Linked DNA regions of Homo sapiens. The protein of the gene in region 4 purifies or fractionates together with the protein of the main gene of each other region. This does not show direct contact. Each region holds a gene or a part of one and is shown on either strand. Other genes may lie near its edges.

What was found. The genes of interacting proteins can lie anywhere in the genome.
Region 1: the proteins of KLHL29 (region 4) and WARS1 purify together in Homo sapiens (affinity purification with mass spectrometry, with the first as the bait; one large-scale study listed by BioGRID). This does not show direct contact.
Region 2: the proteins of KLHL29 (region 4) and SFXN2 purify together in Homo sapiens (affinity purification with mass spectrometry, with the first as the bait; one large-scale study listed by BioGRID). This does not show direct contact.
Region 3: the proteins of KLHL29 (region 4) and ZBTB21 purify together in Homo sapiens (affinity purification with mass spectrometry, with the first as the bait; one large-scale study listed by BioGRID). This does not show direct contact.

The regions. Positions count from the first base shown.
Region 1 is NC_000014.9:100,333,290-100,337,347, reverse strand, and holds the end of WARS1 (tryptophan--tRNA ligase, cytoplasmic), read left to right. Parts: intron 1-145; coding exon 146-286; intron 287-2,311; coding exon 2,312-2,473; 3' UTR 2,474-3,558; downstream 3,559-4,058. UniProt on the Homo sapiens protein: Catalyzes the attachment of tryptophan to tRNA(Trp) in a two-step reaction: tryptophan is first activated by ATP to form Trp-AMP and then transferred to the acceptor end of the tRNA(Trp).
Region 2 is NC_000010.11:102,735,136-102,738,635, reverse strand, and holds part of SFXN2 (sideroflexin-2), read right to left. Parts: intron 2,775-3,500; coding exon 2,727-2,774; intron 974-2,726; coding exon 874-973; 3' UTR 1-873. UniProt on the Homo sapiens protein: Mitochondrial amino-acid transporter that mediates transport of serine into mitochondria. Involved in mitochondrial iron homeostasis by regulating heme biosynthesis.
Region 3 is NC_000021.9:41,993,361-41,996,860, reverse strand, and holds part of ZBTB21 (zinc finger and BTB domain-containing protein 21), read left to right. Parts: intron 1-2,752; 5' UTR 2,753-2,765; coding exon 2,766-3,500. UniProt on the Homo sapiens protein: Acts as a transcription repressor.
Region 4 is NC_000002.12:23,692,679-23,696,178, reverse strand, and holds part of KLHL29 (kelch-like protein 29), read right to left. Parts: intron 2,911-3,500; coding exon 2,651-2,910; intron 557-2,650; coding exon 358-556; intron 229-357; coding exon 46-228; intron 1-45.

The sequences.
Region 1 (4,058 bases), on a different chromosome or scaffold from region 4:
CCAACCGGCTGTGCGCCTTGGCCTTTCCCGGGTCCAGAATCTGACAGCACTCACACCTCTGACTTCCACACTTGGGCTTCTAGCCAGTGTCCAGGCACAGGATGAGCAGGACTGAGGAGCGTGTCTGTGTCCTCTTCTGGTGCAGGTCAATAAGCATGCGTTTTCTGGAGGGAGAGACACCATCGAGGAGCACAGGCAGTTTGGGGGCAACTGTGATGTGGACGTGTCTTTCATGTACCTGACCTTCTTCCTCGAGGACGACGACAAGCTCGAGCAGATCAGGAAGGTGAGCAGGGAACCCCAAGGGCCCACAGCCGCCTTCTGCCACCCACTCCTGCCCATGGGGCCTGGAAGGCTCCAACAGCCAGGCATGAAGGCTTGGTCGGAGGTGCTCAACTGAAACAAGGTGAAAACTGAGTAGACTCGCCCTCATGGTTTTTAGGCCTGGGCTCAGAAGCCTCATGAACAAATCTCGAAAGAGCAGATACAAATCACTATTCATTTAGGAGCCACCCAAAACAGTCTTGCTTTATTAGTCATCAGAGAAATGTAAGTTAACGTGATCAAAGCTAAGACAGTTGAGTATAGAATTAGTAGGGGCTTTTGTGTTGCCATTGACTATTTTCAGTGATTATGAAGCAGATGCTTCAAGGCACACTCAAGTGAGCAGAGTGTTTATCAGCACAGCCTCAGGAAGCAGTTTGGTACTGGGTACAAAGAGCCCAAAAATGTTCAGAGCTTCTCCTCAGGTTTTCTCATTCTTAGATTTTTTCCAAGGAAATAATCCTGAGTAAGAGAAAGCTTTCCACACAAAGATGTTAAAAATGATAATAGCAAAAAGTTCAACACAGACTCAGTACAACAGAGGAAACGTTAAATTAGAATTGTTACAGGGTGGATTATTATGCGGGCATGAACTATTTTAAGTGTTCATATGCAGGGCATGGTGGCACACATCTGTAGCCCCTGCTACTTGGGAAGCTGAGACAGGAGGATCCCTTGAGCCCAGGAGTTCAAATCCAGCCTGGGCGACATAGCAAGACCCTCATTTCTTTCTTTTTTTTTTTTTTTTGAGACAGAGTCCTGCTCTGTCACCCAGGCTGGAGTGCAGTGGCGCAATCTCGGCTCACTGCAAGCTCTGCCTCCCGGGTTCACACCATTCTCCTGCCTCAGCCTCCCGAGTAGCTGGGACTACAGGCACCCGCCACCATGCCCGGCTAATTTTTTTGTATTTTTAGTAGAGACAGGGTTTTACCGTCTTATTCAAGATGGTCTCGACCTCCCGACCTCGTGATCCACCCGCCTTGGCCTCCCAAAGTGCTTGGATTACAGCTGTGACCACCGCGTCCAGCCAAGACCCTCATTTCTTTTAAAAAAAAAAAAGTTTTAGTGACACAGGAAAATATGCCTATGATAGTGAAAAAAGGATACCAAATGAAAACTCAGGGAGGAGTTAACTATGTTTAAATGAAATGCACAGGGAAAGAAATGTGAAGAAAATCTACCAAATGTTAGCGGGAGACCCACCTCTGGGCATTTTTCAGGTGGGCAATTTGTAGGTGATTTTTCTTTACTTTGCTGCTGCTTTGTGGTTTGGGTACTTTATTAAATTTGCTTAATGAGCATGCAGTACAATCAGAAAAAGAAAAAATTAGCAAGATTTGGCTGGGCGCAGTGGCTCACGCCTGTAATCCTAGCACTTTGGGAGGCCGAGGCAGGTGGGGGGAGTGGATCACGAGGTCAGGAGATCGAGACCAGCCTGGCCAATATGGTGAAATCCCATCTCTACTAAAAATACAAAAATTAGCCAGGCGTGGTGGCAGGCACCTGTAATCCCAGCTACTCAGGAGGCTGAGGCAGGAGAATCACTTGAACCTGGGAGGCGGAGGTTGCAGTGAGCTGAGATCATGCCACTGCACTCCAACCTGGCAACAGAGTGAGACTCCATCTCAAAAAAAAAAAAATTAGCAAGATTTTACAGAAGCCATAAGGCTGCCAGGAATTGTTGTTGTTTAGTGCCTGGGGGAATGGCCCCTAGCATCGGTAGGGGTGGGGACTGCCCTCCCCATTGGCCCTTTCACTGTGAGAGGCCAAGTCATGGCTATCGTCAGAGCCAGGTTTCTAGCCGTTTTAGGAAAAGTGTAGCTGAAGGTATAGGTTATTGTTGTGGTAACAACAGATCTCACTTCTGAGTGCCACCCACGTGCCAGGCTCTGCATGGGTGGTGTGGGCTGAGCTGGTGCCCGAGGCAGGAAGGAGCCACTCAGGACATGTGGAGCCATCTCTCACGTGGCTGTCTCCCTCCGGGCAGGATTACACCAGCGGAGCCATGCTCACCGGTGAGCTCAAGAAGGCACTCATAGAGGTTCTGCAGCCCTTGATCGCAGAGCACCAGGCCCGGCGCAAGGAGGTCACGGATGAGATAGTGAAAGAGTTCATGACTCCCCGGAAGCTGTCCTTCGACTTTCAGTAGCACTCGTTTTACATATGCTTATAAAAGAAGTGATGTATCAGTAATGTATCAATAATCCCAGCCCAGTCAAAGCACCGCCACCTGTAGGCTTCTGTCTCATGGTAATTACTGGGCCTGGCCTCTGTAAGCCTGTGTATGTTATCAATACTGTTTCTTCCTGTGAGTTCCATTATTTCTATCTCTTATGGGCAAAGCATTGTGGGTAATTGGTGCTGGCTAACATTGCATGGTCGGATAGAGAAGTCCAGCTGTGAGTCTCTCCCCAAAGCAGCCCCACAGTGGAGCCTTTGGCTGGAAGTCCATGGGCCACCCTGTTCTTGTCCATGGAGGACTCCGAGGGTTCCAAGTATACTCTTAAGACCCACTCTGTTTAAAAATATATATTCTATGTATGCGTATATGGAATTGAAATGTCATTATTGTAACCTAGAAAGTGCTTTGAAATATTGATGTGGGGAGGTTTATTGAGCACAAGATGTATTTCAGCCCATGCCCCCTCCCAAAAAGAAATTGATAAGTAAAAGCTTCGTTATACATTTGACTAAGAAATCACCCAGCTTTAAAGCTGCTTTTAACAATGAAGATTGAACAGAGTTCAGCAATTTTGATTAAATTAAGACTTGGGGGTGAAACTTTCCAGTTTACTGAACTCCAGACCATGCATGTAGTCCACTCCAGAAATCATGCTCGCTTCCCTTGGCACACCAGTGTTCTCCTGCCAAATGACCCTAGACCCTCTGTCCTGCAGAGTCAGGGTGGCTTTTCCCCTGACTGTGTCCGATGCCAAGGAGTCCTGGCCTCCGCAGATGCTTCATTTTGACCCTTGGCTGCAGTGGAAGTCAGCACAGAGCAGTGCCCTGGCTGTGTCCCTGGACGGGTGGACTTAGCTAGGGAGAAAGTCGAGGCAGCAGCCCTCGAGGCCCTCACAGATGTCTAGGCAGGCCTCATTTCATCACGCAGCATGTGCAGGCCTGGAAGAGCAAAGCCAAATCTCAGGGAAGTCCTTGGTTGATGTATCTGGGTCTCCTCTGGAGCACTCTGCCCTCCTGTCACCCAGTAGAGTAAATAAACTTCCTTGGCTCCTGCTCTTGTCATTGTGCTCTGTCTGGGAGGTCTGAGGAGGGAGCAGAGACCCCTCCCCTCACCCTTCTGTGGATGACCTTGAGTCTGCTGGAGTCAAAATTTGGGGATGAAAGCGCACAGTCCCAGGAACCCCATGGTGTTGTGCCACAGCTCCCAGGAATGGGCTTGTGCTGGGAGAGCCCTTAGCAGCATCCTGGTGCGGGCTCCCTCTCACACCACATTTCTCATTTCCAGCAGCTGATGGAGAATGCAAGCAGAGGTTGTCCTCGCTTTTCAGAGGAGGGGCTGGCCGTGGGGTGCTTAGTGGTGCTGTGTAGTGACGGGGAGCACAGGCTGGGAGCCAGGTCGGGCCCCATTCACATGAGGCCCAGGGCAGAGGCCGAGCTGCAAGGGAGCCCTGGGCTCATTCTACCGGCCCATCCTTATTTTGCAAGTAGGGAAACTGAGGCTTAGGAGAGGAGAACATGACTTGTCCAAGGCCATAGGGTGACTCTGATACAGC
Region 2 (3,500 bases), on a different chromosome or scaffold from region 4:
TAATTTCAAGGTTAGCAGCACTCCCAAAGAAGCTGTCCGGGCTGGGTGTGGTGGCTCATGCCTGTAATCCCAGCAATTTCAGAGGCTGAGGCGGGCGGATCACCTGAGGTCAGGAGTTCGAGACCAGTCTGGCCAGCATGGTGAAACCCCGTCTCCACTAAAATACAAAAATTAGCCAGGCGTGGTGGCAGGTGCCCTGTAATCCCAGCTACTTGAGAGGCTGAGGCAGGAGAATCGCTTGAATCCAGGAGGCAGAGTTTGCAGTGAGCCGAGATCGCGCCACTGCATTCCAGCCTGGGCGACAGAGCAAGACTCCATCTTGAAAAAAAAAAAAAAGAAGCTGCCTGACCAGGGGGCAACGAGGAGGAGGATGTGGAAGGGTGATGAGCCCCAAGGGGACAGAGTCCTTTCCCCCTTCTTTTTCCTGAGTTCAGCTAGAATTACATGGGTAAAAGTTTCCATTGCTTGGGAGAGGAGGAAGCGAAGAAGAAAGAGGTATAGAAGCTTCCTTTTGATCCAAGGTCTTTTCCTCAACCCTGGCTGGAACCAGAATCCTAAAGGTTTCCTAACTTTTCCAAATGATTTGCTTGGATGTCTCCTCCCTGAGAGGGCCTCAGCTTCTGGTCTCCAGGGGACAGGGGTTGAGGAAGCAGCTAGAAGACATTGGCCTTTGCTACCCTTTTTCACTTTTTTCCCCTGAGGTCCAATCAACCAGTACCAGGGTGTAAGTATGAGGCATTCATTGTCCCACCCCCCAATCTACCCTGGCCTTCAGGCCTTGTTGGCAAAGGGGAAGGAGGACACAAGTGTGCACGTAGCTAAGGAGGAGCTGGTGAATATGGGAATAGACTGGTCCTTGCTGAAGTGGGGCATTTAGAGACCCTTATTGAAGTAGACATAAGGCTCAAGTTCTCCATACTTGGCCTTGATAGTGTCTTGGAGCTTCGGTTCCAGATAGGAAACTGGCAATTCACTGAAAAGAGAGAAGTGGATTATGAGCATGCCACCAGGAACAAGCAGTAAGTTACCCTCAGATGAATATCACCTCCAAGAAGCCCTCCTGATTTTTCCATCTAGGATTATTATTGGCCTCTGTATACCACAATGTTGCTTTACCATTACGCAGGCCTGACTTCATTCTCCTTGGGCTATGGTTCTTCGTTTCAACTTCCATCTTCTCCACAAGATTACAAACACAGTGCTTGGGACACAAGAGATGTCTAGCAGATGACCATGGAAGTAGTATTGAACTAGAGTACTGAGGAAGGGGAGACTGGAATTGTCTGGGTATATATTCAAGCTACACTTGTCTCCTGGGGTCAGTCACCCTCCACCCCCTAGTCTGATGTATCCCTTCCCTTTTCCATCATCCCTTCTCCCTGCTTCCTCCTTCTTGGACACACAAAGGAAATAGAGGGGTTTCGGTTGTCAGCCCTCTGCCTGTCCCTTTATTTATTTATTTATTTATTTACTTATTTATTGAGATGGAGTTTCACTCTTGTTGCCCAGGCTGGAGTGCAGTGGTGCAATCTCGGCTCACCGCAACCTCCACTTCCCAGGTTCAAGCAATTCTCCTGCTTCAGCTTCCCAAGTAGCTGGGATTACAGGCATGCACCACCACACCCAGATAATTTTGTATTTTTAGTAGAGACGGGGTTTCTCCATGTTGGTCAGGCTGGTCTTGAACTCTCGACCTCAGGTGATCTGCCCACCTCGGCCTCCCAAAGTGCTGGGGTTACAGGCGTGAGCCACCACGACCAGCCCCCTTATTTAATGTTAACGACCAACGGGGAACGGTGGCTCACGCCTGTAATCCCAATACTTTGGGAGGCTGAGGCGGGCAGATCACCTGAGGTCAGGATTTCAAGACCAACCATGGCCAACATGGTGAAACCCCATCTCTACTAAAAATACAAAATGAGGCCAGGCGCGGTGGCTCACGCCTGTAGTGCCAGCACTTTGGGAGGCTGAGGCGGGCGGATCACAAGGTGAGGAGATTGAGACCATCCTGGCCAACATGGTGAAACCCCGTCTCTACTAAAAATACAAAAATTAGCTGTGCGTGGTGGCACGTGCCTATAATCCCAGCTACTCGTGAGGCTGAGGCAGGAGAATCGTTCAGGGAGTCGGAGGTTGCAGTGAGCCGAGACTGCACCTCTGCACCCCAGCCTGGCGACGGAGTGAAACTCCATCTCAAAAAAAAAAAAAAAAATGAGCTGGGCATGGTGGCAGGCACCTGTAATCCCAGCTACTCTGGAGGCTGAGGCAGGAGAATCACTTGAACTGGGAGGCGGAGGCTGTGGTGAGCCGAGATCGTGCCACTGCACTCCAGCCTAGACAACAAGAGTGAAACTCCATCTCAAAAAAAAGAAAAAAAAAAAAGTTAAAAACCAGATCCAGCCAGAGGAGAGCTTCCTAATAACCCAGCTGGCAGGAAGAGAAAGTCTGTTGTTGCTCCCCCACCTTCTCTTCAAGGCAGTGCTTGCTCCACTGGGAGGGAGCAACCTTATTCCTGTCCCTGGCTTCTCCTGCCCCTCGCAGATCTGTTTTCGTTTGTCAGAATTCACCAGGGTTAAGAGGCCCAGCCTTTAGGCTGATGGACACTTGTCCTCAGACAGGTGCTGCCCTTCCTGCCCCTTCCCTGTCTCCTTCTGGACAGCAGGCAGATCAGGGAGCGCGCTGGCAGCATGGTCAATTAAACCAAGTAAGGAATGAACAGCAGATACCATTTCTGTGGGAAAAGCCCACACGCCACTGGCACCATGAAGATGAGGCTGCAAGAAAGGAGAAACCAAAGCATCAGGGGACATCTCCCCACAGGCCCGTCCATCCCCCATCCCCAAGGGAAAGGAGCAATGCCCAGGCACCTGGCCTGCCTTCCCAGCTGGCACCATATCCTCTCCCTCCAACCCTCCTCCTGTTCCCGCAGTGCGAGGATACTCATTCTGGCAGGGGGATAAAACCAGTACCCTCCTGACCCCCATCACTCATTCCCACCCTTACTGCATTGTTCAAGCAGAGGAAGAAGACAATGAAGTAAACAGGGACTGTGAGCAGCAGGCCTAAGGAGCACAGGCACTGCTGGCATCGAGCGAAAGGAGCGACGAGGAGGGAGAGGAGAAACTTGGAGGGGGAGGAGCAACATGGAGGGGGAAGAGCGACATGGAGGGGAGGAGCATCATGGAGGGAGAGGAGGGACATGGAGGGGGAGGAGCGACATGGAGGGACAGGAGCAACTTGGAGGAACAGCATGGAGGGTGGGGAGCGACTTGGAGAGGGAAGAATGACTTGGAGGTTGAGGAGCAACTTGGATGGGGAGGAGCGACTTGAAGGGGGAGGAGTGACTTGGAGGGAAGGAACTACTTGGAGTAGGAAGAACTACTTGGACAGGGAGGAGCAACATGGAGAGGGAGAAGGACATGGAGGGGAGGAGCAACATGGAGAGGGAGGAAGGACACAGAGGGGAGGAGGGATGAGGAGGGAGAGGAGCAACTTGGAGG
Region 3 (3,500 bases), on a different chromosome or scaffold from region 4:
TGAGATTTATTCACTATCACAAGAAGAGCATAAGAAAGACCTGCCCCCATGATCCAGTTACTTCCCACTGGGTGCCTCCCAGATGTGGGGAATTGTGAGAGCTACAATTCAAAATGAGATTTTGCTGGGGACACAGCCAAACTGTATCATTCCACCCTGGGCCCCTCCCAAATCTCATGTCTTCACATTTCAAAACCAATCATGCGTTCCCAACAGTCCCCCAAAGTCTTAACTAATTTCAGCATTAACTCAAAAGTCCACAGACCAAAGTCTCTTCTGAGACAAAGCAAATCCCTTCCGCCTATGAGCCTGCAAAGTCAAAAACAAGTTAGTTACTTCCCAGATACAGTGGGGGTACAGGCATTGGGTAACTACAGCCGTTCCAAATGGGAGAAATTGGCCAAAACAGAGGCTTACAGGCCCCGGTGCAAGTCCAGAATTCAGCAGGACAGTCAAATCTCAAAGCTCCAAAATGATCTCCCTTGACTCCATGTCTCACATCCAGGTCAAGCTGATATAAGAGGTGGGCTCCCATGGTCTTAGGCAGCTCTGCCCCTGTGGCTTTGCAGGGTATAGCCCCCACTCCTGGCTGCTTTTATGGGCTGGCATTGAGTGTCTGTGAGTTTTGCAGGCACGCAGTGCCAGCTGTCGACGTATCTACCATTCTGGAGTCTGGAAGATGGTAGCCCTCTTCTCACATCTCCACTAGGCAGTGCCCCAGTGGGGACTCTATGTGGGGGCTTCAACCCCACATTTCCCTTCTGCATTGCCCTAGCAGAAGTTTCTCCATGGGGCCCTGCCCCTCATGGAGGGGACACAGCCCTGCAGCAGACTTCTTCCTGGATATACAGGTGTTCTCATACATCCTCTGAAATCTAGGCGGAGGTTCCCAAACCTCAGTTCTTTACTTCTGCACACCTGCAGGCTTAACACCACATGGAAGCCGCCAAGGCTTGGAGCTTGCACCATCTGAAGCCATGGCCCAAGCTGTACCTTGGCCCCTTTCAGCCATGGCTAGAGCACCTGGGACACAGGGCACCAAGTTCCTAGGCTGCACACAGAAAGGGGGCCCTGGGCCTGGCCCACAAAACCATTTTTTCCTCCTAGACCTCTGGGCCTGTGATGGAAGGGGCTGCTGCAAAGGTCTGACATGTCCTGGAGACATTTTCCCCATTGTCTGGGTGACTAACATTCGGCTCCTCCTTACTTAGGCAAATTCCTGCAGCCAGTTTGAATTTCTTCTCAGAAAATGGGATTTTCTTTTCTATCGCACTGTCAGGCAGCAACTTCTCCAAGCTTTTATTCTCTACTTCCCTTATAAAACTTAATGCCTCTAACAGCACCTGAGAACCTCTTGAATGCTTTGCTGCCTAGAAATTCCTTCTGCCAGATACCCTAAATCATCTCTCTCAAGTTGAAAGTTCCATAGATCTCTAGGGCAGGGGCAACATGCCACCAGTCTCTTTGCTAAAACATAACGAGTCACCTTTGCTTCAGTTCCCAACAAGTTCCTCATCTCCATCTGAGACTACCTCAGCCTGGATTTCATTGTCTGTATCATTATTGGCATTATGGTCAAAGCCATTCAGCAAGTCTCTAGGGAGTTCCAAAGTTTCCCACATTTTCCTGTCTTCTTCTGAGTCCTCTAAACTGTTCCAGCCTCTGCCTGTTACCCAGTTCCAAAGTCGCTTCCACATTTTCGGGTATCTTTTCAGCAGTGCCCCACTCTACTGGTATCAATTTACTGTATTAGTCCATTTTCACACTTCTAATAAAGACATACCCAAGACTGGGTAACTTACAAGAAAAAGCGGTTCAGTGGACTCACAGTTCCACGTGGTTGGGGAGGCCTTTTAATCGTGGTGGAAGGCAAGGAGGAGCAAGTCACATCTCACATGGCAGCAGGGAAGAGAGAACTTGTGTAGGGGAACTCCTCTTTATAAAATCATCAGATCTCATGAGGCTTACTATCATGAGAAGAGAACGAGAAAGACCCACCCCCATGATTCAGTTACCTCCCACTGGGTCCCTCCCACGACGTGGGAATTGTGGGAGTTACAATTCAAGAGGAGATTTGGGTGGGGACACCACCAAACCGCATCACCTGGCAAGGTGGCATGTGCTTGTGGTCCCAGCTACTCAGGAGGCTGAGTGGGAGGATTGCTTGAGCCCAGGAGATTGAGGCTGCAGTGAGCCATCATGGTGCCACTGCACTCCAGCCTGGGTGACAGAGAGATACCCTGTCTCAAAATAAAAACAAGGGTCTCACAAGACCTGCTTTGCAACCAATTGTTAACAGTTCACATTATGTTTAAGTATATGTAGTAATAAAGCTGATTTTCTTTCAGAATTATAGACTTCAGGGGTTTGATAATTCGTACTTGTTTTCTGAATTGGTAAGGAATAGTGCCAAGCATCAAATGGATAAGGACCCTAAATAATAAACCTTTATTTTCAAATATTGCTTCCATATCTACCTGCCAAGTTCTGGCAGCCTTTTTGATGATATACAAATGCCTATATTATAGTTCCTGCAATTCTTCTATTTTAATGAGGACCTACTTAAACCACGAGACTTATTTTACATTTTCACCATTATTTAAATAAGATTGTTCATTCATAGAGCTTCTGTTAGCCTACGGTCTGCTAAATATTGGTACCTATGCAAAGACAGCTGATGTTCCCTGCTCTTGAGGAGCCAGGGGAACTTTTCACTGCAATATCTGTAGTAATTTTACATTTTGTCTTTTAGATAAACTCAAGCCATGGAGGGATTACTGCATTACATCAACCCTGCACACGCCATTTCTCTCCTAAGTGCCCTGAATGAGGAGCGTCTCAAAGGACAGCTGTGTGATGTGCTGCTGATTGTTGGAGACCAAAAGTTCCGAGCTCATAAAAACGTCTTGGCTGCCAGCAGCGAATACTTTCAGAGTTTATTCACAAATAAGGAAAATGAGTCACAAACTGTATTTCAGCTTGACTTCTGTGAGCCAGATGCTTTTGATAATGTTTTAAACTACATTTATTCTTCCTCTCTATTTGTTGAGAAGAGCAGCCTTGCTGCTGTGCAAGAACTTGGCTATAGTCTTGGGATTTCCTTTCTGACTAACATCGTTTCTAAAACACCTCAAGCCCCCTTTCCAACGTGTCCTAATAGAAAAAAAGTGTTTGTAGAAGATGATGAAAACAGTTCTCAAAAGAGAAGTGTCATTGTTTGTCAAAGTAGAAACGAAGCGCAAGGAAAAACTGTTAGTCAAAATCAACCCGATGTAAGCCATACTTCCCGGCCCTCTCCTAGCATTGCAGTCAAGGCCAATACCAATAAGCCACATGTCCCAAAACCAATAGAACCACTTCATAATTTGTCATTAACTGAAAAGAGTTGGCCGAAAGATAGTTCTGTGGTATATGCAAAGTCTCTTGAGCATTCTGGATCTTTGGATGATCCTAATAGAATCAGTTTGGTGAAAAGAAATGCAGTGTTGCCTTCAAAGCCT
Region 4 (3,500 bases):
TGGGACCCCCATGCCTGGTCCCGCCCCAACCCCGGGGGGCCTCACCTGAGAGGTAGATGTTGTCCCCTGCACTCACTACACTGAAGAACTCGCGGTCATAGAAGGGCAGCGAGGCCAAGGGGTACCACTTGTTGTTCTGCGGGTTCCAGCAGGTGACGGCCACCAGCGAGCGCTGGGTCATCCCCACCATCTGACGGCCCCCAACCAAGACGATGACCTCAGCCACACCTGCAGGGACATGGATGGGCGCCCTTGGGACACACTCTAAGACTGTCGGCATCTGTGCCTGGCACCTCACTGGAACCACTGAGCCCAAGACACTGCTTCTTGGGAGGTTCGGGGCGTGCCCCTTCATACCTGCAGAGAGGCGCGGCCGGGTTCGGGGCGTCTGCATCTCCTGGCGGGCGTGGGGCAGCATATGGTAGCGTTTGGCCTCGTTCACCAGGTCCCGGCAGGCTTCTGATGACTTGATCAGCTCTTCATTGTCAACCACATTGAGCAGGTAGCTGGGGTGGATGAAGGGGAGGCGGACCACGGCCAGGAGCTCAGCCGCGTACTGCAGGGTACAGGAGACAGAATCTTCTTAGACTAGCAAGAGAGAGCCACCTCCCGGACGGAAAGAAATGGTGTGGGGCTGCACAAGAATGGATAATTCCAGGCTGTGTTAGGCTTGGGAGTGTAGATACTCTGCTAGCCTAGACAGAGGTGAAGGGAAGTCTAGTCAGCTGGAGGTGTGGAGGGGAGGGCCGGGAGCGCAGGGGTGCGGAGGGGAGGCTGGCAGGCTGCAGCCAGCCCTGCAGGAGTGGGAGCATGTGTTCATCCCCCCAGCACCCCATTCTCTCACTCCACCTGGGGCTGTGGACCCCTGCTGCAGATCAGGCCACTGGGGGCAGGGGCGAGGGGTTAAAATGAGGAAGACGCGATTATTAAAGAGCTGTGAGTGTGACAAGGACTCAGGAACAGGTGGGAGGACCCAGGAAAGCTTCAAGGAGATGGCGACTATTGAGCTTGTAAGTCTCAGCCGTGGGAGCCTGTGTCTCTCCAGCACCGAAAACTTTCAGTGGTGTCCCATGTCCCACGGCCTCAAACTGTCACCCTGCACTGAGGTGGTTTTACAGGCTCCCTTGAATCTCCCCTCCTAACAAACTCTGCTCATCACTCTACTTTCGTTTCATCCCATGAGTAACGAGACCACCATAGGCCAGGCATGACGCTCATCACTGGGGGTGCAGAGACCACTGTGACCCAGTTTCAGACCTCAAGGGGTACACAGTTTAATGGGAGGGGATCTGCTATGAAAAATTCACGAGGGGCAAGAGGAGTGTCTAGTGAGGGTTTGTAGTGGGTGCAGGAGTAAGAGGTTTTGCAGAGGGAATGGCATCTGGATGGGGTATACAAAATGGGCAGACTTCTGCCAGGCACAAGGTGGATGGGAGGGTGGACATTCGAAGCCCGTGTAGAGGCGTCAGAGAGTGAAAGAGAATGGTGTGTCTGGAGAATTGTCTGGGGTTTATTCTTACGAGATGTAACAGGATTTTGTTGAGGAGGCGTTTAGGGAGACAGGGAGAAGTGAGAGGAGAGAGGCTGGGGAGGCCAGCTCATGCTCATGCTCAACAAGGACTGCACAGTTTCCCCTGTGGAGTCGACGAGGCAACTGAGGAGGGGTTTGAGTGGATGGATGAGATGTTCAGTGTGCTTTTAGAGAGACCGCTCAGGCTGGAGGGTGGAAAATGGATTTGGAGGGAGCAAGACAGAGGCAAGGAAACCACTTAGGAGGTGCTGCAGTAATCCTGGCGAGAGGAGGAAGGTCTCGATGGGGAGAGGGAAGTCGATCCACTTAAAGGGGAGGAAGGAGGCAGGAATGAGCGCGTGTAGCGAAATGGCTATGGGAGAAGTGGGAGGAAGCTAAGCTTCAGTTCTGGGGACCAGGCATCGCTGAAATAAGGAACAGGAAGAGGTGTAGGCTTTCGGCTTGGTGAATTAGACGGATCTGCAGGACATTCTGCTGGAGAGGCCCAGAAGGCCACTGAGCAGAGGGGTCTGGAGCTCAGGAAAGGGTTTCAGCCTGAGACACAGATCTGGGAGTCATAGGGACTTGTGGCTGTCACTGTTATTAGCTGCCCCATCTAACTTCCTACCTCTGAAAAGAAACCCTGCCTCCCACCTGATCTGAGGACCCCTTTCTCTGGGGCTCAATGGCGAGATCTGGGGCGGGAGCCCTCTCTGTATCCTCTGTTTACCCAACACAGTCCCCTCAGGACCTCACTCTCCCTCTTCCTGCATGCAGGGGTTTCCATTTGGTCCATTGCGGGCTGTCCATCCCCTCAACAATCAGAGCAGGTATGGGCTCCTCCAGCTGGGTCCGTGTTCCTGGGAGCCCCAGAGCCCCCTGGCTCAGGGACCCACTTCTCCCTGCAGAGTGCAGGTGCTGCGGCTCTTGGCCGACTTGGGTCTCCTTTGGGGTGGAATGCCAGCCCTTGAGGATCCTTTGGTGACTGGTTTCTCACCTCTCTGCCCGCCCTTCACCTCTCTGCCACTTAGGGAGAGCAGGACAAGGAAGGTTCACTTCCTTCCTCCTTGCTGCAGACCCCATTGCCGCAGGGGGACCCCAAACCCAGAGAGAAGGGGCGGGGGACAGGGCAGGCCCCACCTGTGTGCGTGTCGCGGGGTCCTTCTTGATCCACTTGATGACTGTCTCGTACACCAGCTCCTCAGCCTTGGTGTTGAGGCTGTCGTTGGAGACGTAGGCGATGAAGTCGTCCTTGGAGATGCTGAGGATCTCCTCCTGGGCGGCCACCTCGGGGAAGATCTGCAGCGCGAAGGCCTTGGCCATGTGGTAGAGCTCGCTGCACTGCATGGCCTCGGCCATGGCCAGCACGCCCAGGCAGTTGCTGGCCGTCAGCTGCTTCTCTGGGGGCGACAGCGCAGGACCACTGACCCAAAGGCCCGGGAAGCAGTTGCCACCTGTTCCCATTGCTGTCACCCTAGATCCTTCTCTGAACCCACATCCCGGGGGACCCTGACTGCAGTGTCCAGAGTCCCTGCAGGCCCCCTTCCTGGGTGTCTGGAGGCTTCGATCCTTCTCCTGGGTTCTCCCCTACCCCATTTCATGCTGACTCCCAGGGGCCTCCCTCTGTGCGCACAGGTCCTGGCAGAAGGACCGAGACTGGGAGGCATGGAGCAGGAGAGCCCTGCTCAGAGCCTGGGCCTGGGCTGGGGTCAGGCGTCAGGAGTCACACTGTCGCTGAGGTTGAGGGTGGCACTGAGGCTTACAGCATCTTCCATGTTGTGCCAGGCATGTCTGTGGTCCCAGACTCCTTCGTTAGCAGTAGTGCCCCTCACACACCTCCCAGCTTCTTGCATAGGCTTCTGCCCCACTCAATCTGGCTCGCTAGGCTCTGGGGTCCATCTGGCCAGCTCTCCTGGGCTTAGTGGCTAGGTCTGGGGTGGGAGCCATCTCCGTATCCTGTTTACCCAATACTGTCCCTCCCAGGGCCTTG